Regions from separate parts of the Homo sapiens genome. Here regions 1 and 2 are each linked to region 3. Evidence: fine-mapped expression QTL. A gene starts in region 3. Each other region holds a variant in brackets. All regions are shown on one strand. Distances are between the middles of the regions.

Region 1 (5,000 bases), 130 kb after region 3:
GCATACATATAACATGTTTTTATTTCTGCATTTACTATTTGACAGACACTTGGATCATTTCTAGTTTGGGCTGTTAAGGTTGATGCAGCCACGAACATGTCCTTGGTACCAGTCTCTATATGGACGTATGTTTTCATTCACTGAGTAAACACCTAGTAAGATTGCTGGGCTGTGCAACAAGGTGACTATTTGGGGAACTGCCCTACGTTGTCTGGAGTAGCTGCACCATCTTACATCCCCAGTGGCCATGTATGAAAGCCCATTTCTCTACATCCTCACCGATGCTGGTTATAGTGTATCCTAAGGGAGAAGGGTGTGTTCCTTTTGAAGTGATGTTAGAGACTGGTTGGGATCAGAGAAGAGAAGCAAAGAGTTAAAAGTGGGATAGAGGCCAGGCGCGGTGGCTTACGCCTGTAATCCCAGCACTTTAGGAGGCCAAGTTGGGTGGATTGCTTTAGGTCAGGAGTTCAAGACCAGCCTGACCAACATGGTGAAACCTCGTCTCTACTAAAAATACAAAAATTAACCGGGCATGGTGGCAGGTGCCTGTAATCCCAGCTCCTCAGGGGCTGAGGCAAGAGAATGGTTTGAAGCCAGGAGGCAGAGGTTGCAGTCAGCCGAGATCTCGCCACTGCACTCCAGCCTGGGCAACAGAGTGAGACTCCGCCTTAAAAAAAAAAAAAAAAAGGTGCAGGATGGATCTCAGGAGAGCAGATTGTGGTCATAGACTACAGCAGGAGGCCTGTAATCTCTCTCCTGGTGAACACAGAGGTTCTCTGGTGGTCTCAGCAAAGACCCACCCCCGGGAGTAGGTTATAGTGCAGACACATGGGGCCCAGACAGGAACAACTGGGGTTGCCCTGCTGGACCATCCAGGCTGGTGACGATGGGCGTGAAGGAAGCTGTTGTCTACAAGGAGCTAAGTGAACAAGCATTTCCTCCTTTGGAAGGTTTACTCATAGCCCCCTCCCTGCCCCTGCTGAGGGTGGGTGAGAGGATGTCCTCCGGCTGCCCATTGGTGACTCAATCCAGCCACACTGACTACAAAGCAAGCAGGGCAGTGCTGGGCCCCCAGCAGAGCCACCATGCAAAGTGGTCAGTGATGCTTCAGGGCAGCACACAGCACCTGCCCCAGTTGGGCTTCGGCCTCCCTCAGCCCCCACCCCACCACTTCCCTGGGATGGATGTGCACGATAGTTTTCTAGGCAGACCTCTAGGCCACCATCTGCCAGGCCCGCTGACCATAGTCATTCTTTCAAGGCTCCTGCCTTACCCAGTCCAGGGGGAGAGGAGCAGCAACCTGGTCCATCCTCCTGAGACCACTGCATGTGAGCAGACAGACCCCTGCCTGCCCAGTCCCCGGCCAGGCAGCAGGCATGTTCCTCACCAAGACCTTGCAACCCAGGGGGACCCTGGACAGCATCCGGAGTGCCTCGGTTTTTCCCTTAAGGGAAAACTGTTTCCCCCTTGGTCATCTGTTTTTCCAAACCCCAGTCTTTTGCTTGTTTACTTCTCTGGTGCTTTAAATAACTGCACGAGAGAGCGTACCAGCCTTGAGCAATGTTTGGGATTGGCTGAGCTGAGGCACAGGCCTCATTATCATGCTATTCTTTATACGGCTTCCGCTCTGCGGCGCACACTCTGTTCTTTGGAACAGAGCCAGCCTTGGGACAGCCTTTCCCACTGGAGCTGCCAGTCAGGACCGCCGTGAGAGCCAGTGCCTGGAGGCCAACACCCTGGTCTTCAGTCACTGGGAGTCACAGAGAGGGGCCCGATAAAGAGCCCTCCTGGCAGCATCAGTACCAGGTTGGAGTGGGCGCTGGACACCACCAATGCTGGGGAGTGGACGCTGGCTGGAGCCCCACCCAGGGCTGCACATTGCTCAGCCAGCTAGCTCTGGGGGAGCAGGACCTGAGCAGGGTGTCCTCCACCCTGGGTCCATCAGAGGCACTGCATTTGATTATTGGGGTTACCTGCTGGGAGTGGTGCAGATTTTGGACAGTCTGGATTGCTTCCAGCACAAGGCAGGCTGACCAGTCATACTTTACTCAGTCTCCAAACTTGGGCAACAGGAAACTAGCCACTTGAGAAGGAAGCTCAGCTTTTCTGGGCTTTAGAGGAGATGGAGACACGTTGGAAATTCCCGTAACCAATAGGCTGGGGTGGGAGGGTGTTCTTCCCACACACACACAAAAAAGTGGAACCCGGAGGTGATGGGAAGCTTTGACCTTGGCCAGCCAGACTGCGGGGTGGGGTTTCCCTCAAAGCCTGGTCAAAAGGCC[T/G]TGGAGGCTGGAAGCTCTCGTTTAGCCCCACCAGCTTCCCAGAGCAGCAAGGCCAAGCATGCAAGAGTCACCATCCACCCTGGCCATGATGCAGGGCCTCCTTTGGTACTTCCACCCCAGCCGGGCGGGCCGGAGCCGGGCGGCCTCTGCTGAAAAGCACCTGTGGGCCGTGGTTCCAGGGGGGCTTTGAGGGGCAGCCGCTGATGTCTGGACAGCTTCTCTTTCTGTCTCTTCTTACCTGGACTCTGGGTTGCTTGTTAGCTGCTTCTGCCTGTTCTGGGTTTTCAAGGGGAGAGGGGCCCAGTGATGGCTGTTCTTTGAAGGAAAGGTAAGAATGTCTCCTGCTTAACATGTTTCTGTGTTTCCAGTTACTTGGTTGGTTAGTAGAGCCAGGGTCTCTCGCTTTGTTGCGCAGGCTGGAGTGCAATGGCATGATCATGGCTCACAGCAGTCTCCACCTTCTAGCCTCAAGTGTTGCCCCCACCTCAGCCTCCCGAGCAGTTGGGACTGCAGGCACATGCCACCATGCTTGGCTAATGCTTTTGAAAATTTTTTTTTTATAGAGACAGGGTCTCACTATATTGCCCAGGCTGGTCTTAAACTCATGGGCTCAAGTGATCCTCCTGCCTCGGCCTTTCAAAGTGCTGATATCACAGGCAGGGTTTCCATTTTTTAAAGCTCCCAGCAGTGGTATAAACTCCTCCTTTCCAGAGAAAGCGCACTCTGTCCGCATCCCTCATGTTGTCCTCTCCTGCCTCTGCTTAGGGTTCACTCCGGGGGAAAGTGCCACTTGAGAGTTTCCTTTTTATGTGTGGTTCTGACTGACCGCTCCCTGCTCACAGATGCTGCTTCTCAGGGTGGGGTCCCTGAGGCCTGGAGTGTGGCCTCTGACGACCTTCAGGGCCAGGTGCGGAATGAGAGCCTGTGGCCGCATGGCCCCCGGTGGGAGACGTCCCGCCGCCCTTTGCTTCTCTGTGCCACTCTGGCTGCACAGTTCAGAGCCTTGGGAAACGTTAACCAGTAGGACCTAGAAGGGGAGGTGAGAAGGGGTCAACCCCCAGGTGTGCCTGTGGTGAGCCTTCGTGCTGAGCAGGTGCAGGGAGGGAGGCCCAGGTGCACACACCTGTGAAGTAGGGGGGCAGCTGGCTGGGCTCCTTGACCTGCTCCAGAGCTTCTTATTTTCTGGCCACTTCACCTGCAGAAGGCCCAGGTGGCTGTAGCCGCTAGGGTCCCTTGCAGTGGAAATGATGCCTGTCCTCAGCCCCTCTCTAGGCCTGGCACTGTGCTCAGCACCGTCGTGTGTGTGTATGTATATGTGCACGCATGTGAATGTGTGCAGACATCATGAGGTGTGGTCCCTGCTGTTAGGCAGCTTGCCTTGTGGCTGAAGTGAACCATCACCTGAATCAAGGGATGGAAACACAAGGCCAGATGCAGTGGCCTTCTATGGAGTCAGACGGTGGCTCCGTGACCTGGCTTCACTCCAGAACTACCTGGGGTTTCTAGCTGTGTAAATCCCAGGTCCCACTCAGATTATGAGTCAGTTCTCTGCAGGTGGAACCCAGGGAGGTGTTTTTTTTGTTTTTGCTTTTATTTTTGAGACGAAGTCTTGCTGTGTCGCCCAGGCTGGAGTGCAGTGGCGCCATCTTGGCTCACTGCAACCTCCACCTCCTGAGTTCACACCATTCTCCTGCCTCAGCCTCCCAAGTAGCTGGGACTACAGACGCCCACCACCACGCCCAGCTAATTTGTTGTATTTTTAGTAGGGACAGGGTTTCACCATGTTAGCCAGGATGGTCTCAACCTCCCGACCTCGTGATCCGCCCACCTCAGCCTCTCAAAGTGCTGGGATTACAGGCGTGAGCCACCGCACCTGGCCAGGGAGGTGTATTTTTAACAAGATGGTACTGCTCATTCACCCAGCCCAGCCAGTGATCTTGGCATACCCAGGAACCGCTGACATAGAACGTGCTCCCCATAAAACGGGAGACAGAGGCTTCACGGATGGGGGACATGTGGCTTGGTCATGACAGGGTGTTACATACCAGGACAGACTGTGTTCGGGTGACATTAAGGACAAGCTCCTGCAGGCTAGCTGTCTGGATAGTGCCGGGTGGGGGTAGAAGTTAGAGGGGTCACAGAGGGGCTTCCTCCCGGCCCCCTCATCAGCTGCTTGATTTAGGGCTTGTTTCTGGGTCCTTCTGGGCCTGATTCTGAACCATGGGACTGGTGTGGCCTGCAGGCTCCTCCCGCCACAAGCTGTTCATGGTGCAGGGGGAGAACAGTGTCCACAATTCCCCAGACAGCAGCTGTGGATGCCAGGCCCCCAGGAGTTGTTACTGAAGTTGCTGCTGGACAGCTCACCTTTCACTGAGCTCCACATAGCACCCGTGGTGATGGAAGCCGGATGGAGAGAGCCTGCCAGCCTGCACATCAGCTCCCAACTGGGCGGGGCAGAGGGAGGAGGGGGTGGGGACCCCAGGCAGCAGGGCTCTGGGAGCAGTGGGGCCCTGGGTTCCAGGGGTGTCTGGCAGGCCCCTCCTTACTCTACCTCTGTTGGCCTCTGGATGGAGGTGCTGGCCGCAGTCGGGCTCTGCCTCTGACTAAGGGTTGGGGAAGTGGCGGGTGTGGGCTGCTGCCCCGTGGGGCCTCTGAACAGACCCCAGGGCCTCTGCCAATCATGACTCCTTCCTTTCAGCTGGACCCGCAGGCCCTGCA
Region 2 (9,600 bases), 140 kb after region 3:
GGGAGGAGTCAGATGAGCTGCTCAAAGCCCAGGAGGGACCCGCACAGTGGTCAGCATGGCAGGGACAGTGCTTTAGCCAAGGCAGGGATGGTGGGAGACTCACTCGGGATCCTCAAGGAGGCCGCTGCATTTCCGTGCTCTTTCCAGATAACAAGGACGTGTCGGTGATGATGAGCGAGATGGACGTGAACGCCATCGCAGGCACGCTGAAGCTGTACTTCCGTGAGCTGCCCGAGCCCCTCTTCACTGACGAGTTCTACCCCAACTTCGCAGAGGGCATCGGTGAGCACTGGAGGCCTTGGCCTCATGGGAGACGTCTCCTCCACGTGCACTGCTGCCCTTGGAGGCTGTGAAAAGTGAGGTGTGGGAACCCAAGCTGTGCCCCCTCTGCCATGGTCGGCATTTTAACCCAACCTCAAAAAGCAGGGGACCAGAACCGAGCCTGTCCTGGAAGGCCTTGCCCATCCCTAGAGGGCTCCCTGTCCCTACTCCTCAAGGAGACCAAGAGGCTGAAATAGTCAGCACTGCTGTGCTGTGGGGTCCTAAAGTCTGCTGTCCTCCTTCCTGCAGACCAGGGCTGAAGGAGGGTGCCTGGGTGCTCTTGCCATGGGTCCTGGTCCAGCCAAGCATGGTTTCAAACATGACCTGACCCTTAGTCAACCTGGAGGCTGATGTCTAGAGTGGGTGCTGGTGTGTGCAGTACCTGTGGCCTCTGCATCACCCTTAGGGCAGGTCTGCCTCCCGGGCCCATGCACAGAGGACCTGGTCTCCCAGCCTGCAGGTGCCCCTGTGGTGTCCAGGACGACGAGGGGGTCTCTGCGTACTTGGTGGGGCTGGGACCCTCCCACTTCCCACCTCCTTGTGTTCCTCACTCCCCTGTTTCATTCCATGCTGAGCCTCCCCTGCCTTGGGCTCCTCTGGGGAGGGGGTGGTGGCAGGAGTTGTCCAAGGGCAGCTCTGCCCATGAGCAGCTGCTCTAGCGGCTCCTCCTGCTGCTGTTTGCCGGGTGCTGCTGACCCCTGCGAGGTAGAGAAAAGGCGTTCAGGTGGTTCACACCCCACACAGGTGCCCCTCACAGGGTCCTCAATGGGGGCCAGAGCTGTGAGACTGAGGATGATGACGAGCCTGGGCTGTGCAGGGACACAAGCCCCAGGTGCTCCATGTGAACACCTCGGGAGAGGTCTCTGGCTCGTTGTGACCCCAAGGAGTAACCCACCGCCTTCTGCAGCTCTTTCAGACCCGGTTGCAAAGGAGAGCTGCATGCTCAACCTGCTGCTGTCCCTGCCGGAGGCCAACCTGCTCACCTTCCTTTTCCTTCTGGACCACCTGAAAAGGTAGCCCAGCTCTCCCATGGCAGCCCAGGGCTCCAGGTCCCCAGGCCGCAGAGTGCCCCTCTGCTCCCACTAGACCCCCAACACCGAGGACCTTTTCTCCTGACCCTTGTCTGCAGTCACTCACTGCCTTTGGCGACTAGTGCCACTGCCACCCCTGCCCCAGCCTCTCTTCTTTGCCACCCTCCTCTCTCTGCACTGTGGCCTTAAAAAAGAGCTCAGAGCTTTGGCCGTGGCCAGCAGTGCACTTGGACCCCCCTCTTCCCTCCGAGTCACATCAAGTAGGAGACCTCCCCACCAGCCCAGAGCTGGCTCCTTGTCCTGGGCCACTGAGACCCAGAAGTACCAGGGCTGGAGTCAGCTTGCAGCACAGCCAGGGTCGAGGTCACTCCCTTCCTGAGAACTCCAGCACAGCCCAGCCCCTCTGCCTCTCTCCTGGGGGTGGCGTTGAAACAGCACCCGCTGCTTTGGTCCTCTACAGGGTGGCAGAGAAGGAGGCAGTCAATAAGATGTCCCTGCACAACCTCGCCACGGTCTTTGGCCCCACGCTGCTCCGGCCCTCCGAGAAGGAGAGCAAGCTCCCTGCCAACCCCAGCCAGCCTATCACCATGACTGACAGCTGGTCCTTGGAGGTCATGTCCCAGGTATGGGAAGACAGGCTCCAGCCCATGCAACCCTGACCTGACAGAGGTGGCCTCTGCCTGCCCCACCCCCAGTCCTGCCCATCTTCTTACTTGCATTGTATGTGGTGTGGCCAACATTCACAGAGAGGGACTTGCCTAGGTCTGCATGGATGGGAGTGATAGTGGGGGCCCAGGCCACCTCCTGGTCCTGCTAGTGCACTTTGCTGGAAGCTTAAAACTACCTCAAGTGTTCGGGTGTGGTGGCTCATGCCTGTAATCCCAGCACTTTGGGAGGCCAAGGCAGGATAACCAATCCCAGGTGTTTGAAACCAGTCTGGGCAATGTGGCAAACCCCATCTCTAGAAAAAATAAAAAGAAAAATTAGCCAGGCATTGTGGCACACATCTGTAATCCTAGGTATCTGGGAGGCTGACACAGGAGGATTTCTTGAGCCCAGGAGTTAGAGGCTGCAGTGATCCATGATGGAGCCACTGTACTCCAGCCTGGGGGACAGAGCAAGGCCCTGTGCATCTCTAAAATAAATAACCACCCCCCACCCAACAAGTCATGCCTTGTCAGGACCCCACCCCACCCCCATCTCACTGTAAGGGGTTCATGACACCAGCAGGGGTCCCCAGCACCTGAGATGGACTTGGAGGCTTGGGCCCCAAAGACCTCCCACCAGCAGCTGTGAGCCCCGCTCTGAGCCACTCTTCTCTTCCCTACTCTGCCCGGGCAGGTCCAGGTGCTGCTGTACTTCCTGCAGCTGGAGGCCATCCCTGCCCCGGACAGCAAGAGACAGAGCATCCTGTTCTCCACCGAAGTCTAAAGGTCCCAGTCCATCTCCTGGAGGCGGACAGATGGCCTGGAAACCTCTGGCTAATC[G/A]GGCCATCCGTAGAGCGGGAACCTTCCTGAGGTGTCCTTGGGCCACCCCCAAGTGTTGGGCCATCTGCCAAGAGACAGCGACCCAAAGCCGAAGGACAGGTGGCCTGGAAAGATCCCGCCCAGGTCTGGGAGCCCCAGGCTGGCCTCAGACTGTGGTTTTTTATGTGGCCACCTGAGGGCGCCCCAAGCCAGTTCATCTCGGAGTCCAGGCCTGGCCCTGGGAGACAGGGTGAAGGGAGTGGTTTTTATGAACTTAACTTAGAGTCTAAAAGATTTCTACTGGATCACTTGTCAAGATGCGCCCTCTCTGGGGAGAAGGGAACGTGACTGGATTCCCTCACTGTTGTATCTTGAATAAACGCTGCTGCTTCATCCTGTGGGGGCCGTGGCCCTGTCCCTGTGTGGGTGGGGCCTCTTCCATTTCCCTGACTTAGAAACCACACTCCACTTCTAACAGGGTTTGAGAGGCTTAGTCAGCACTGGGTAGCGTTTTGACTCCATTCTTGGCTTTCTTTTTCTTTCCAGAAGGATTTTTGTGCAGAAATGGGTCTTTTGTTGCCATGTTAGTCCTCCTTGGAAGGCAGCTCAGAAGGCCTGTGAAATGTCAGGGGACAGGACCCCCAGGGAGGGAACCCCAGGCTACGCACTTTAGGGTTCGTTCTCCAGGGAGAGCGACCTCGTCCCCCGATCCTGACCGCCCTTCCGGCCCACGCTCTCCTGTTTGGCTTCCACAGGCCTGGACTTCTCTGGCTTCTCTGCCCACACACTCCCTGCCCCCAGTGTCCCTGCCCCTGCCCCAGCACAGGTGACTTCATTTCTGTCCTCTCAGCTCAGTGGACTCGCTCAACTTTTGTATAAGTCTCCACTTGGTGGCAGCAGCTTGCTGATGACTTGTTTTAAAACTTTCATCCTAAATAACCTTTTGATACTTGAATATTTGTAAGTTTTATACATAGTTTCTAATTTTTTTCCGAACAGATCCAGATACCTAATAAGATGCTGGAATGTAATCCCTGGACAATCCGTGTCCTGGCAGCATTTGGTCTTCCTCTAAGCGCCTGGCTCCGCTGTTCTCAGGAGTGGGTTCTGAAGTCTCTGGAGAACAGGATACGTGGAGGGTTAGGAAGGGGCCAGGCCTAGAGACGGGAGACTCCCTCCCGGAGCAGGTGGAGGCACAGGACCATTCGCTACCCCATCTGCCGACACCTGCGGGGGAGCCCAGGCATTCTTTGTAAACCCTCCTGACCACCTGGCTCAAAGAAAACAGAAGCATGGAGACCGCCAAGTATTTTCAAGAAATAACCCCATGAATATTCCATCACTTTTTTAGAAAGAGGGGCTTGGGGCAGGCAGAGGAGAGAAGGGAGAGCAAACTGAGAGCCAAGTTTCCACACGGTCCTGCAGGAGGAGAGGATGCAGCTGCCCAGAGGGAAGCAGGATCACATTTAAGGAAGTGTGTGGGGTCCCTGGATGACACCAGCACCCAGTGCGGCTCTGTCTGGCACCCGCTCCCAAGGTGGGAGGAGTGGGTGTCCCCTGTGTGTCAGTGGGCAGCTCCTGCTGAACCCGCAGCTCACTAGGGAGCCTGACAGTGGGGCCATGCGCCTGACACTCCTCTCTGCTTGTGGACCTGGCAAGGCAGGGAGCAGAAAACAGCCACTTGAAGGCTTTCTGTCTGCGTCTGTGTGCAGTGTGGATTTAGTTGTGCTTTTTTCTTGCTGGGAGAGCACAGCCACCATTTACAAGCAGTGTCACCGTCGTGGGTGGCGAGGACAGAACAGGAGCCTCTGCTCTCTGTACCTATCTGGGCCCGGTGGGCTCCCTTGTCCTGGCTTCCATCTCTGTCTCAGCGACCATTCAGCCCTGCGCAGGAACACGTGTTGCTTAGAAAAGCCAAATCCAGCCTTGTCTCTGCCTCCTCTGGTCTCATGATGTGCATCTGTTACCTTGAAACTGGAAACCAGTCTATCAATGTCTGTGCCAATTTTTTATTCCCTCCCCAACCTCCTTCCCCATACGACTTTTTATTTATGTAGGATGTGTGCTGTCTAATGATGGGATGACCACACTTTTCCATGTTCTAAAAGTGCTCCTCTCCCGCAGGGTCCCAGGGCTGGTGGTTGCTTTGGGTCTACAGCTACGTCTTACCCACCTCCTGCCTCAACAGCCTGTGTGGTGGCAAAGCCGGTGTGGGGCTGGGGAACGCAGCGTTCTCCAGGAGGGGGACCTGGCTCTCCTTCTGCAATGCAGGCGAAGGCCTAGATGCCAGTGTGACCTCCCACAAGGCGTGGCTTCCAGACTCCCCGGCCGGAAGTGATGCTTTTTTGCCTTGGGCCCTGGGTTTGAAGCAGCCTGGCTTTCTCTTGGTAAGTGGCTGGTGTCTTAGCAGCTGCAATCTGAGCTCAGCCACCTACACACCACCGTGGCCGACACTTTCATTAAAAAGTTTCCTGAGACGACTTGCGTGCATGTTGACTTCATGATCAGCGCCGCTGGGAAGAACCCCTGAGCCGGTGGGGTGGGGCTGGAAGCAGCAGGTGCAGTGATAGGGCTGGGTGCCCAGGAGGCCTCAGTGCTCAATCAGGCCAAGGTGGCCAAGCCCAGGCTGCAGGGAAGGCCGGCCTGGGGGGTGTGGGTGAGCACAGGCAGGCACCAGCTGGGCAGTGTTAGGATGCTGGAGCAGCATCCGTAACCCCACTGAGTGGGGTAGTCTGGTTGGGGCAGGGACCGCTGTTGCTTTGGCAGAGAGAGATGATCCCCACTGGGGAGAGGCTGTTCTGACTCTGCAGGTGGGACAGGGACAGATGGCCACCAGGGTGACCCGGCTGGTCTTCCTTTGCTATGCTAAGCCCTGGGACATGGAGGATTCCTGCCACCCTGGGCCCGGGTTCTTACCTGTGGCCACCGCTCTGGCACGAGCCCCTCAGTCTTGGGTGGTTTCTGCCTGGTCCGGGATTTGGTGTTGCTGCTGAGTCCAGCCTTTCCACCACCTCCGCATGGGCCGTGGGTGTTGTCAGCTGCCTCCCGCCTTGGCTTCAGTAGCTCACCCAGCTTACAGGGGAGCTGCCCTGGGCTGGAGATGGGCATGCACCCTGGGTCCTACTTGAATGAATGCAGCTTGAGGAGAGCCGGCCATATACACTGGGCCACAGGTTACCCTCGGCAATGCCCACAGCTGTCAGCCTGAGCCTCCCCAGGAGAGCAAGGCTCACACGACAAAGGCTGCCCGTGGCCAGTGAGGTGGCTGAGCCCAGCCAGGACCTTTCTCGGACTCCCGGGATGTGGCTCTGCTCGTGAGCTGCCTGGTCAGCTCTCTCGGGGTGAGAGGGGCTTGTCACACGGGCGCCTGCCTGCAGTGTGACCCTTCTCAGCTTCTCTCAGCAGCCCTGCCTGCGGAGTGTCACCGCCACCATGATCATTTCCCTGACACTGCGAGGGTGGGGGGACGTCCTGGGTAGAGACAGGGCCCGTGGCAGCAGCAGGCTCAGGGGAGCCCTGCACTGGTGGACTGGGGACCTGGTGGAGACCACGCCAAGGGCTGGACAAGGGGACGAGCCTCCACCCTGGCCTCTCCGCAGGCCTCAGCAGCCCCTCCCACAGGCAGAAGGGTTGACACTGGGTTCTGCCCTCACTGCAAGAGCTGCAAGTGCCACGTGCTGTTCTGCCCAATCTGGTGTCTGCAGGTGAGGAAAGGACTGCCGCTGGCCCGTTTCTGAGTGTTCAGCACCTAAGGGTGACAGCACTGTCTGTCCCTACCCTCCGGGTCCTGTTTGAAGATCAAACCCATGCTCACAGGCCGATATTTTTTTCTTTTAGAGACAGGGTCTCACTTTGTCACCCAAGCTGGAGTGCAGTGGTGCGATTATAGCTCAATGCAGCCTCCAATTCCCGGACACAAGGGACCTTCCTGCCTCAGCCTGCCAAGTAGCTTGGACTATAGCTGTGTGTTTTCTTATTATTTTGTAGACATGGGGTCTGGCTATGTTGTCCAGGCTATTCTCAAAATTCCCAGCCTCAAGCAATCCTCCCGCCTCAGCCTCTCAAAGGTTGGGATTACAGGTGTGAGGCAAGGCACCCAGCTCAGCCACAGAGCCCTATTGCATCTCTCTTACTAAGAGCAAGAGCTGACTTCCCCCTCATCCCCATTCCAGAGTGTTGGGGCTGTGTTCAGCCGAGGCCAGGCCACTGGCATGGGCCCAGGGAGCGGGATCATTCACTGCTGCCCCAAATCTGAGATCATTCCACCTTGACAAGACTTCCTCATCCAATCCCTTTACTTGACAGCTGGGGAAACCAGTGCACACAGAGCACCCCCAGCTCAGTCAGGGTCTCAGAGCTGATCCATGAGCGGAGGCTGAGATCCTGGGATCTTGTCCCCCAGCCTCCCTGCAAGCTTACTCCCTTTCTTCTAGAAGAGATGGGGCCAGACCTCGACCAGCAGCCCTGGCCTGGACATGACTGTGCTCATGCAGGTATTGAGGCTGAGATGCCCCGGCATCACATTTTTTTCTTTCTTTTTTTCTTTTTTTTTTGAGACGGTGTCTCACTCTGTCACCCAAGCTGGAGTGCAGTGGAATGATATTGGCTCACTGCAACCTCTGCCTCCCGGTTAAAGTGATTCTCCTGCCTCAGCCTTCCAAGTAGCTGGGCCTACAGGCTTGTACCACCACGCCTGACTAATTTTTGTATTTTTACTAGAGACGGGGTTTCCTCATGTTGGCCAGGCTCGTGTCGAACTCCTGACCTCAGGTGATCCACCTGCCTTGGCCTCCCAAAGTGCTAGGATTACAGGCATGAGCCATGGCATCACTTAAACGTAGTGAGAGGCCGGGCGCAGTGGCTCATGCCTGTAATCCCAGTACTTTGAGAGGACGAGGCTGTCAGATCACCTAAGGTCAGGAGTTCGAGACCAGCCTGGCCAACATGGTGAAACCGTGTCTCTACAAAAAAACAGAAAAAAATATCCCTGCGTGGTGGTGAGTACCTGTAGTCCCAGTTACTCAGGAGGCTGAGGCATGAGAATCGCTTAAACCTCGGAGGCGGAGGCTGCAGTGAGCTGAGATGGCGCCACTGCACTCCAGCCTGGGTGACAGAGCAAGACTTTGTCTCTAAATAATTAAATAAATAAATACGGCCGAGCATGTGCCTTAGGCCTGTAATCCCAACACTTTGGGAGGCTGAGGCAGGTGGTTCATGAGGTCAGGAGCCCGAGACGAGCCTGGCCAAGATGGTGAAACACTGTCTCTACTAAAAATACAAAAATTAGCCAGCTGTGGTGGCAGGCACCTGTAATCCCAGCTACTTGGGACACTGAGGCAGGAGAATCGCTTGAACCTGGAAGGCAGAGGGTGCAGTGAGCCAAGATTACACCACTGCACTCTAGCCTGGGCGATGGAGCAAGACTCCATCTCAAATAAATAAATTAATAAATACAGAGCAAGATTCCATCTCAAATAAATAAATGTACACCTGTAATCCTAGCACTTTGGGAGGCTAAGACAGGTCGATCACCTGAGGTCAGGAGTTCGAGACCAGCCTGACCAATATGGCAAAACTCCATCTCTACTAAAAATACAAAAATTAGCCGGGCGTTTTGACGTTTGCCTGTAGTCCCAGCTACTCGGGAGCCTGAGGCGGGAGAATCACTTGAACCTGGGAGGCGGAGGTTGCAGTGAGCCAAGATGGGGTGACTGCAGTCTAGCCTGGACAACAGAGAAACTCCGGCTCAAAAGAAAAATATAACTTCATAAAAACGAAGTAGGAAGAAACAGAAAACCTTGTCTAGATCTAGAACCATTAAAGGAATTGAATGTTTATTTTAAAATCTGTATCCCATCCAGTCAAAAATCTCACAAAAAACAAAACCAAAGAAAAGCACCTGGCCCAGATGATTTTATAGATAAGTTCAGCAAACATTAAGAAGAACAGAAAGTCTTTATCTTCTACAGAATTTTTTTAAAATAATTTATTTATTTATTTATTTTTGAGAGGAAGTCTCGCTCTGTAGCCCAGACTGGAGTGCAGTGGCATGATCTCTGCTCACCGCAAACTCCGCCTCCCAGGTTCAAGCGGTTCTCCTCCCTCAGCCTCCACAGTAGCTAGGATTACAGGTGTGCCTGGCTAATCTTTTGTATTTTTAGTAGAGACGGGGTTTCACCATGTTAGCCAGGGTGTTCTCGGACACCTGACCTCAGGTAATCCACCTGCCTCGGCCTCCCAATGTGCTAGGATTACAAGCACGACCCACAGTGCGCGGCCTACATAATTTTTTTTTTTTTTTTTGAGACGGAGTCTCGCTCTGTCGTCCAGGCTGGAGTGCAGTGGCGCGATCTCGGCTCACTGCAAGCTCCGCCTCCCGAGTTCAGGCCATTCTGCTGCCTCAGCCTCCCGAGTAGCTGAGACTACAGGCGCCCGCCACCACACCTGGCTAATTTTTTGTATTTTCAGTAGAGACGGGGTTTCACCGTGTTAGCCAGGGTGGTCTCGACCCCTGTCCTCGTGATTCGCCCGCCTTGGCCTCCCAAAGTGCTGGGATTACAGACATAAGCCACCACACACGACCCCGGCCTACATAACCTTACAGAAAAAGAAGCAAATGGAATTCTCCCCAACTCATTGTGAATTTAATATAAGCTTAAAACCAAACCAGACATAAATAGTACAAGCAGGCAAAAGTATAGACTAACTTCTTATGGACATATATGCAAAAATGCTAAATAAAATATTAGCAAATAATCCAGCAATGGATTAAACATGTATCA
Region 3 (9,483 bases):
AGAACGAGACTGCATCTAAAAAAAAAAAAAGAATGTCATATATTTGGAATCATACAGTATGTAGCCTTTTCAGAATAGTGTCTTTTCATATGGTAATAGGCATTTAAGTTTCCTCCATGTTTTTCCATGGCTTGTCAGCTCCTTTCTTTTTAGTGCTGATTAATATTCCATTGTCTGGATGTACCACAGTTTCTTTCTTTCTTTTTTTCTTTTTTTTCTTTGAGACGGAGTCTCGCTCTGTCACCCAGGCTGGAGTGCAGTGGCGCGATCTCCGCTCACTGCAAGCTCCGCCTTCCAGGTTCACGCCATTCTCCTGCCTCAGCCTCCCAAATAGCTGGGACTACAGGTGCCTGCCACCATGCCCAGCTAATTTTTTGTATTTTTAGCAGAGATGGGGTTTCAACATGTTAGCCAGGATGATCTCGATCTCCTGACCTCGTGAGCCGCCCGCCTCGGCCTCCCAAAGTTCTGAGATTACAGGCATCAGCCACTGTGCCTGGCCTTCTTTTCATTTATTTATTTAATTTGAGACAGGGTCTCACTCTGTCGCCCAGGCTGGAGTGCAGGGGTATGATCATAGCTCACTAAAACTTCAACCTCCCTGGCTCAAGCAATCCTTCCACCTCAGCCTCCAGAGTAGCTGGGACTACAGACACATGCCACAATGCTCAGGTAATTTTTTTATTTTTGGTTTTTTGTTTTTTGTTTTTTTTTTTTAGAGATGGGGTCTCACTATGGTGCCCAGGCTGGTCTCAAACTTCTTCTCCGTTATTATTTACTATTTATTTATTTTGAGACGGAGTCTCGCTCTGTCACCTAGGCTGGAGTGCAGCAGCACGATCTTGGCTCACTGCAAACGTCCATCTCCTGGGTTCCAGCGATTCTCTTGCCTCAGCCTCCTGAGTAGCTGGGACTACAGGCATGCGCCACCACACCAGGCTAACTTTTTCATATTTTTAGTAGAGACAGGGTTTCGCCATGTTGGTCAGGCTGGTCTTGAACTCCTGACCTCAAATGATCCACCCTCCTCGGCCTCCCAAAGTGCTGGGATTACAGGTGTGAGCCACTGTGCCCAGCCTCTATTCTTTCATCTGTTGACTGACACCTGCATGCTTTCCATCCCCAGGGCTTTGAGGCATGAGAAGTTCTGCATTGTCTCCAGCAGAGGGGGCGGTTGGGTCCCAGCCTGTTCTTCCAGTAAAGGGAAAGGGTGGCCTCCGGGAGGGGTTTGCTGGAACTTTTGCTTGGGGCCTAGGAACCACTTGGGCTGCTGCTGAGGGTGTGTGACGGTGTGTGTGTGTGTTTTGATTTTAAAATTACTTCTAGGCTGGGCACTGTGGCTCACGCCTGTAATCCCAGCACTTCGGGGAGCTGAGTTAGGAGGATCACTTAAGCCCAGGCGTCTAAGGCTGCAGTGAGCTAGGATTGCAATAATGCACTCCAGCATGGGTCACAGAGCGAGACCCCCATCTCAAAAAATATATAAGTAAATAAATAAATAATAGAATCATGTAACCACACTCAGAGAACAAGGGAAATTGAGGGGGAACATCACCAAAAACCCCACTTCTCTGTTATATTTTAGTTTCGAGATTTAAAAACATAATATGGATTGGGGATGCTGGAAATACTTGTTATCTAATTGTGGCGATGGCTTCAAAGTATACACAGATGTCAACACTCATCAAATCGCACTCCTTATGCGCAGTTTATGACACTTCAATTATACTTCAATAAAGTTGTAAAAAAAAAAAAAGCTGAGTGTGGTGGCTCACGCCTGTAATCCCAGTACTTTGGGAGGCTGAGGCAGGTGGATCCCCTGAGGTTGGGAGTTCGCAACCAGCCTGACCAACATGGAGAAACCCCGTTTCTACTAAAAATACAAAATTAGCCAGGAATGGTGGTGCATGCCTGTAATCCCAGCTACTCGGGAGGCTGAGGCAGGAGAATTGCTTGAACCGGGAAGCGGAGGTTGTGGTGAGCTGAGATCACGCCATTGCACTGCAGCCTGGGCAACAAGAGCAAAACTCCGTCTCAAAAAAAAAGAAAAAAAGATTGTAAAAAAAAAATTTTTTTTTTTTTTCAGACAGAGTCTCGCTCTGTCACCCAGGCTGGAGTGCAGTGACGCAATCTTGGCTCACTACAAGCTCCGCCTCCTGGGTTCACGCCATTCTCCTGCCTCAGCCTCCGAGTAGCTGGGACTACAGACGCCCACCACCACACCCGGCTAATTTGTTTTTGTATTTTTAGTAGAGTCGGGGTTTCACCGTGTTAGCCAGAATGGTCTCGATATCCTGACCTCATGATCTGCCCGCCTCGGCCTCCCAAAGTGCTGGGATTACAGGCGTCAGCCACGGCACTTGGCAAAAAATCTATTTTTTTTTAAATTACAAAAGATAGGTGGGTTGGCTTGTTTGTTTGTTTTTTCTTGAGACAGAGTCTCACTCCATCACCCAGGCTGGAGTGCAGTGGCGTAATCTCCCCTCACTGCAACCTCCGCCTACTGGATCCAAGCAATTCTCCAGCCTCCGCCTCTGGAGTCACCATGCCCAGCTAATTTTTATATTTTTGGTAGAGACAGGGTTTCACCATATTGGCCAGTCTGATCTTAAACTCCTGACCTCAAGTGACCCGCCCGCCTAGCCTCCCAAAGTGCTGGGATTACAGGCGTGAGCCATAGATAGGCGTTTTATTATGAAGAATTTAGAAAAGCATGATGATTTAGAAAATAAATGTCACCCACTGCTCATAGACAGCTGTGGAGCCCTTGGTGAAGCCCCCTCCTCCTGCTGAACCCCTCAGAAGGCTCCTGGGGTAGCGCTCAGGGCCCATCCAGCCTCCAGCTTCTGCAGCCAAGTTCCAGGGCCCACCTCTGCCCTGCCGGCCTCATGATGCCAGACTCAGCTAGCATCCTTCCCACTGAGGGAACAGCAGCTATCAGCATGAGGCTCTGCCTTCTTCACTGAGTCTTCTCCGCTCAGACTCCAGGGTCCCCATCATCTCCCTGGCCAGTCCCTTCTCAGTCCCTCTGCCTCTACTTCCCCCCTAGTCCAGTAACTGTCCCTTCTCCACCCAGCCTCACGCAGGCAGGGGGAGAGTCTCCAGCCCCGTGGCAACAAACAACATCGATTCACTGGCAACACTCCACTTTCTCTCTGAGGTCTTCATTGCTCCTTGGTGCAACAGGGTCACCCTCTGCCTGATGCCTGCTCATGGATGGGCTATGCGGACCTGAAGCCCTGTGCAGGCACCTCTGCTTGCCTGTTGCAGTCACCATCCCAAAGTCATCCCCATGAGCTGGCCTCCCTCTGTTGGGGAAAAGCTGGGTGTGGGGAGAGAAGCTGAGGCAGGGCTTGCATGTCTGCTAGACTTGCTGGCTCCTTCCTTCTAGCACTCTCATTATCTCAAGTAGCCATATGTTTCAAAGAAAATGCTAAACTGTCACAGCTGTAGCTCATTTGCTTGATACACCGCTTCCTTTCAATCCCCACATCCTCACCACCTGTTTCTTTGTTTGATCACCAATAAATAGCATAGGCTCCTAGGGCTAGAGGCCTTTGCAGCCTCTATACTAGCGTTGGCCCCCTGGTCCCACTTTCTCTCTTGCCTTTTCTCACTCCTTTGACTCCGCCAGACTTTGTCGCCCCCACGGCCTGGTGTTGGGTCTGATCACCCCAACATCCCTCATTCCCCACACCCACTCCATCTACAAGTCCCATGAGTTTTACTTCCAGAATGCTCCTGAATTCTAACCCCTTCTCTGGGGTACCTTGCTTCTGCCCTATTCTGGGTCACCAATGCCTTCCTCATAAACAATTGCCACAATCCCCAACCACTCCCCCTACTCCCACCTCCCACGCCCAACCTTCCATGCAACAGACCCCAGCAAGTCACCCCGCTTCCTGTGCGGTTGAGTACAGCAGCCACGGTGGCCATTGAAACTCACTAACACGAAACCAAACATTCAGTTCTTCAGCTGCCCCAGCCACGTTTCAGATGCTCAGTAATCACACGGGGCAGCTCGTGGCTGCCACATTGTGCAGCACAGATTACAGAACATGCCCATGGTACTGGCAAGTTCTATCGGACAGTGCAGGTCTAGAACCTTTGAGCAGCTTTTCCTTGCATTTAGAATAAAACCCAAACTTTGTGCAGGCCTACAAGGCCCTGCCTCACCTCTGATCCCACTTCCTACTGCCTACACCAGCCTCATCTCCCAACCTGGCTGCTCCTCAAACAGAACTTTGAAGCCTCCTTGTCCTTTGCCTACCTGGTCCTTGTCCTTAGGACCAGCTCAGGCATCACCTCCCCTGGCAAGCCTTTCCCCGAACTGTGCCTTCTCCCACAGGACACACACACCTTTGCTATAGCCGGGCTGTGAATGCCTTATCACTTCCTCCCCCATACACAGGCATCGCTCTCGGTGACCTATCTGCCCTCCAGGCCATGCACACATCTGGTTCCTCATTCCACCAGACCTGGTTGAGCACTTACTCTGAGCTCACTATATGAGAGACATAGGGGAACAAGACAAACAGGTCTGTGACCTTGCAGAGTTTAGATCTAGTTGGAACAGACACTGAGTGGGGGATTACAGAGTGTTATGTGTGTCTAAACCCCATGCCCATGCCCATGCCCTGCTGCATTCCTCCCTAGGGAGGGATGGATGATAAGAAAACTCTACAGGAAAGGCCCAGAGGCTCAGGATAGGGGTGCTTTCAGGGAAGTCCTGAGGAGAGAACAGTGTCCTTGGGGCCAGAAGAGGCTGTCCCACAAGGGAGAAAGCCACTATCTGGACGTGTCCTTGTGCCTAACAAAAAGCCATTTGCTATGCCAAGAGAACAGAGCATGCAAACTCAAACTAAACAGCTTCAGAGTTTACTTAGAGACAGGGTCTTGCTCTGTTACCCAGGCTGGAGTGCAGTGGCGTGATCCTAGCTCACTGAAGCCTCAAATTCCCAGGCTCAGTGCAATCCTCCCACCCCAGCCTCCTGAGCAGGTAGAACTACAGGCACGAGGCACCATGCCAGGCTAATTTTTAAATTTTTTTGTAGAGATGGAGTCTCACTATGTTGCCCAGGCTGGTCTTGAACTCCTGGGCTCAAGCGATACTCCTGCCTCGGCCTCCCAAAACACCAGGATTACAGGCATGGGCCACTGTGCCTGCCTTTATCATACCCATTTTAAAGAAGAGGCCATTGAGGGCTGGGTGCAGTGGCTCACACCTGTAATTCCAGCACTACAGGAGGCCAAGGCGGGCAGATCACGAGGTCAGGAGTTCAAGACCAGCCTGGCCAACACAGTGAAACCCCGTCTCTACTAAAAATACAAAAAACTAGCTGGGCGTGATGGCAGGCGCCTGTAATTCCAGCTACTTGGGAGGCTGAGGCAGCAGAATCACTTGAACCCAGGAGGCAGAGGTTGCGGTGAGCAGAGATCACTCCACTGCACTCCAGCCTGGGCAACAGTGTGAGACTCCGTCTCAAAAAAAAAAAAAAATAGGCCACTGAGGATGAGAGCACTGCTCAGTATGGCACTACTGGGATTCCAGCCCCTTTAGTGGCCAGGGCATCATTTGCATCTCAGTTTCCTCACATGCAAAATGGGCTATTTGCAGCCTGATGGGAAGGGGATGAGAAGGTCCGCTGGGTCCAAGGGACCAGGATGGCAGGAGGTTAGCAAGGCCTGCAGAGGGCAGCAGTGAGCTGCGCACCGCCCACCCAGCCTAGAAACTGGGGCCCATGGGTTTTCCAGGGCAGGAATGTTCTCCAGGGGCACTAATATTAACAGGCAATCACGAAATCGACCCCTACACACCATTTATCAGGTTGTGTTTTATGTTTGCCCCATCTGGGCATTTTATGCAGGATGCTCTCAACATTTTGTACCGTGGCCCACAGGACTGGGTGGAAGACAGGACAGCTCAGAGCAGGGAGTGAAACAAAATCTTTGATGGTTCTCTAGGGAAGCCTGGAAATCTGAGACAGGGCAAAGAGCAGGGAGTCTGATGAGCACAAAATTAAAATACCCAAACCAGCCTGCCGGGTCAGGGGAAAAGGAAGCAGGATTGGGCACATGAAGAACAGATGACAAAACTGAGGCTCAGAGAGGCTGAGAGAGACACTGCTGAGGTCACACAGCCAGGAGTCGGCAGGAAGCCCTGAACCCAAGCAGGGCTGGCCTGGCTACTAGCCTGGGCTCAGTCCTTTAGATTGGACTTCAAAGTATCTGCTCCAGATGACGCTGGCATTGGGAGGAGGGCATGATAATCCCTAACATCCACACAGGGACAACAGCACTTGGAGGCAGATGTGCTTCTCACTTCAAGGAAACTGAGGCAGAGAGGGAGAGGTGGTCAGGACTCAAGCCCAGTAATTCATTTGCCAAATCCTGTTTCCTTTTCCCCCAACCCAGCGGGCTGGTTTGGGTATTTTCAGTTTGTGCCCATCAGAGTCCCTGCAGAGTGCTCTCCACTGTGTCTCAGATCTCTGTGTCCCCAGAGAACCATCAAAGGTTTTGTTTCACTCCCTGCTCTGGGCTGTCTTCCACCCAGCCCTGTGAACCTCAGTGCAGGTTGGCCGCCCCCTTAGAGGGAGGCTAATCAGGGAAGTTCTGAGTCAGGTCGTCCTGGAAAAACTACATTGACCTCTGGAGCTCAAGAGAGGCCAGGGGACAAACACATGGCTCAGCACACAGGAAGGCAGGTGTGGGTATTGAGTGACCTGAGGGAGAAATCCCTATTTATCATCCATCATGTGGTCCTGCTGTGACAAACCCGTGTGGCAGCCACCCACAGCAGATCCACAACGTGAGAGGCCCGCTGAAACAAGGGTGCTGGCATTGGTTACTCAGCCTGGCCCTCCCTGCCTTGCGGGGTGACCTGCCTGGTCCTGGCCTCTCTGTGAGTTGGGCCCTGCTGGGTGGTCCCTAGTGTGCCCAGCCCTGAGGCTGGTGAGAGGCCAGGCTGTGAGGTGTGAGGAACTTACCTGCGTCTCCATGGAAGGTGCCCTCCGCATCGTTGGGCCAGATCTGCCTGGTCTTGCAGATGCCCACGATGGTGGCCTCTGACACGACGACTGGGCAGTGCCGGTGACGCTTATGGCACTGCGGCGTGGTAGGGGCAGAGGGGGGAGGTTGCTTCTGTCGGAGGACTGCTGCGAGTTCTGCCAGAGAGAGCAGCTCTTGTCCCGGAACATGAGGTAGGTGGTGGGGCTTGGGGACACGCGGCTGGACTGGCCGGAGAAGTCCTCCTGGCCGGAGGGGAGCCAAGTGTTCCTGTTCCAGGACTGCAGAACTGGCCCAGACCTCTGTATTGGAAAGGTCTTTATGGACCAGGGAGTCCGGTGTCTTTTTTACGGGGGACCCCTGGGCTGCGAGTTGCACAGTCCAATTCGCTGTTGTTAGGGCCTCAGTTTCCCAAAAGGCACAGGGACGGGGGGAGGGTGGCGGCTCGATGGGGGAGCCGCCTCCAGGGGGCCCCCCCGCCCTGTGCCCACGGCGCGGCCCCTTTAAGAGGCCCGCCTGGCTCCGTCATCCGCGCCGCGGCCACCTCCCCCCGGCCCTCCCCTTCCTGCGGCGCAGAGTGCGGGCCGGGCGGGAGTGCGGCGAGAGCCGGCTGGCTGAGCTTAGCGTCCGAGGAGGCGGCGGCGGCGGCGGCGGCACGGCGGCGGCGGGGCTGTGGGGCGGTGCGGAAGCGAGAGGCGAGGAGCGCGCGGGCCGTGGCCAGAGTCTGGCGGCGGCCTGGCGGAGCGGAGAGCAGCGCCCGCGCCTCGCCGTGCGGAGGAGCCCCGCACACAATAGCGGCGCGCGCAGCCCGCGCCCTTCCCCCCGGCGCGCCCCGCCCCGCGCGCCGAGCGCCCCGCTCCGCCTCACCTGCCACCAGGGAGTGGGCGGGCATTGTTCGCCGCCGCCGCCGCCGCGCGGGCCATGGGGGCCGCCCGGCGCCCGGGGCCGGGCTGGCGAGGCGCCGCGCCGCCGCTGAGACGGGCCCCGCGCGCAGCCCGGCGGCGCAGGTAAGGCCGGCCGCGCCATGGTGGACCCGGTGGGCTTCGCGGAGGCGTGGAAGGCGCAGTTCCCGGACTCAGAGCCCCCGCGCATGGAGCTGCGCTCAGTGGGCGACATCGAGCAGGAGCTGGAGCGCTGCAAGGCCTCCATTCGGCGCCTGGAGCAGGAGGTGAACCAGGAGCGCTTCCGCATGATCTACCTGCAGACGTTGCTGGCCAAGGAAAAGAAGAGCTATGACCGGCAGCGATGGGGCTTCCGGCGCGCGGCGCAGGCCCCCGACGGCGCCTCCGAGCCCCGAGCGTCCGCGTCGCGCCCGCAGCCAGCGCCCGCCGACGGAGCCGACCCGCCGCCCGCCGAGGAGCCCGAGGCCCGGCCCGACGGCGAGGGTTCTCCGGGTAAGGCCAGGCCCGGGACCGCCCGCAGGCCCGGGGCAGCCGCGTCGGGGGAACGGGACGACCGGGGACCCCCCGCCAGCGTGGCGGCGCTCAGGTCCAACTTCGAGCGGATCCGCAAGGGCCATGGCCAGCCCGGGGCGGACGCCGAGAAGCCCTTCTACGTGAACGTCGAGTTTCACCACGAGCGCGGCCTGGTGAAGGTCAACGACAAAGAGGTGTCGGACCGCATCAGCTCCCTGGGCAGCCAGGCCATGCAGATGGAGCGCAAAAAGTCCCAGCACGGCGCGGGCTCGAGCGTGGGGGATGCATCCAGGCCCCCTTACCGGGGACGCTCCTCGGAGAGCAGCTGCGGCGTCGACGGCGACTACGAGGACGCCGAGTTGAACCCCCGCTTCCTGAAGGACAACCTGATCGACGCCAATGGCGGTAGCAGGCCCCCTTGGCCGCCCCTGGAGTACCAGCCCTACCAGAGCATCTACGTCGGGGGCATGATGGAAGGGGAGGGCAAGGGCCCGCTCCTGCGCAGCCAGAGCACCTCTGAGCAGGAGAAGCGCCTTACCTGGCCCCGCAGGTCCTACTCCCCCCGGAGTTTTGAGGATTGCGGAGGCGGCTATACCCCGGACTGCAGCTCCAATGAGAACCTCACCTCCAGCGAGGAGGACTTCTCCTCTGGCCAGTCCAGCCGCGTGTCCCCAAGCCCCACCACCTACCGCATGTTCCGGGACAAAAGCCGCTCTCCCTCGCAGAACTCGCAACAGTCCTTCGACAGCAGCAGTCCCCCCACGCCGCAGTGCCATAAGCGGCACCGGCACTGCCCGGTTGTCGTGTCCGAGGCCACCATCGTGGGCGTCCGCAAGACCGGGCAGATCTGGCCCAACGATGGCGAGGGCGCCTTCCATGGAGACGCAGGTGAGTTCCTCACGCCACGTGCGTGGGCACACCTGCACGGGGGAGGAAAACCATAGACGAGTAGGGGATACAAAACAGAAGTTGGGAGGGAGGAGTGGATAGTTTTGAGTGTATCAGGTGCACTTGTGGTTCACGCGGATCCTGCACCCGAACAAACTCCATCCCCTCCTCCTTC

What was found. PIP is the estimated chance that this variant, and not a neighbour inherited with it, causes the effect.
Region 1: its variant is fine-mapped to the expression of BCR in whole blood (TOPMed, PIP above 0.99). The same link has a PIP of 0.9 or more in uterus.
Region 2: its variant is fine-mapped to the expression of BCR in thyroid (GTEx, PIP 0.95).

The regions. Positions count from the first base shown.
Region 1 is chr22:23,304,444-23,309,443 of GRCh38, forward strand. BCR (BCR activator of RhoGEF and GTPase) reads left to right here. Exons shown (of 23, transcript NM_004327.4): 17 at 4,981-5,000. Among named protein-coding and RNA genes, the nearest start is that of LINC02556, 20 kb to the right of the region's middle. The variant T/G (reference allele first, on the strand shown) is at 2,283.
Region 2 is chr22:23,312,740-23,322,339 of GRCh38, forward strand. BCR (BCR activator of RhoGEF and GTPase) reads left to right here. Exons shown (of 23, transcript NM_004327.4): 20 at 148-282; 21 at 1,229-1,334; 22 at 1,813-1,975; 23 at 2,694-5,298. The coding sequence ends at 2,783. It also overlaps the pseudogene POM121L11P. Among named protein-coding and RNA genes, the nearest start is that of LINC02556, 9.1 kb to the right of the region's middle. RefSeq lists enhancers at 1,245-1,746, 2,883-3,177 and a silencer at 2,928-3,047. The variant G/A (reference allele first, on the strand shown) is at 2,840.
Region 3 is chr22:23,172,932-23,182,414 of GRCh38, forward strand. BCR (BCR activator of RhoGEF and GTPase) reads left to right here and starts at 7,578. Exons shown (of 23, transcript NM_004327.4): 1 at 7,578-9,308. The coding sequence starts at 8,030. It also overlaps a transcript of RSPH14 not described here and the pseudogene BCRP8. RefSeq lists enhancers at 1,016-1,065, 1,051-1,345, 3,438-3,537, 6,498-7,308 and silencers at 3,925-4,024, 7,429-7,668, 7,739-8,008, 8,029-8,108.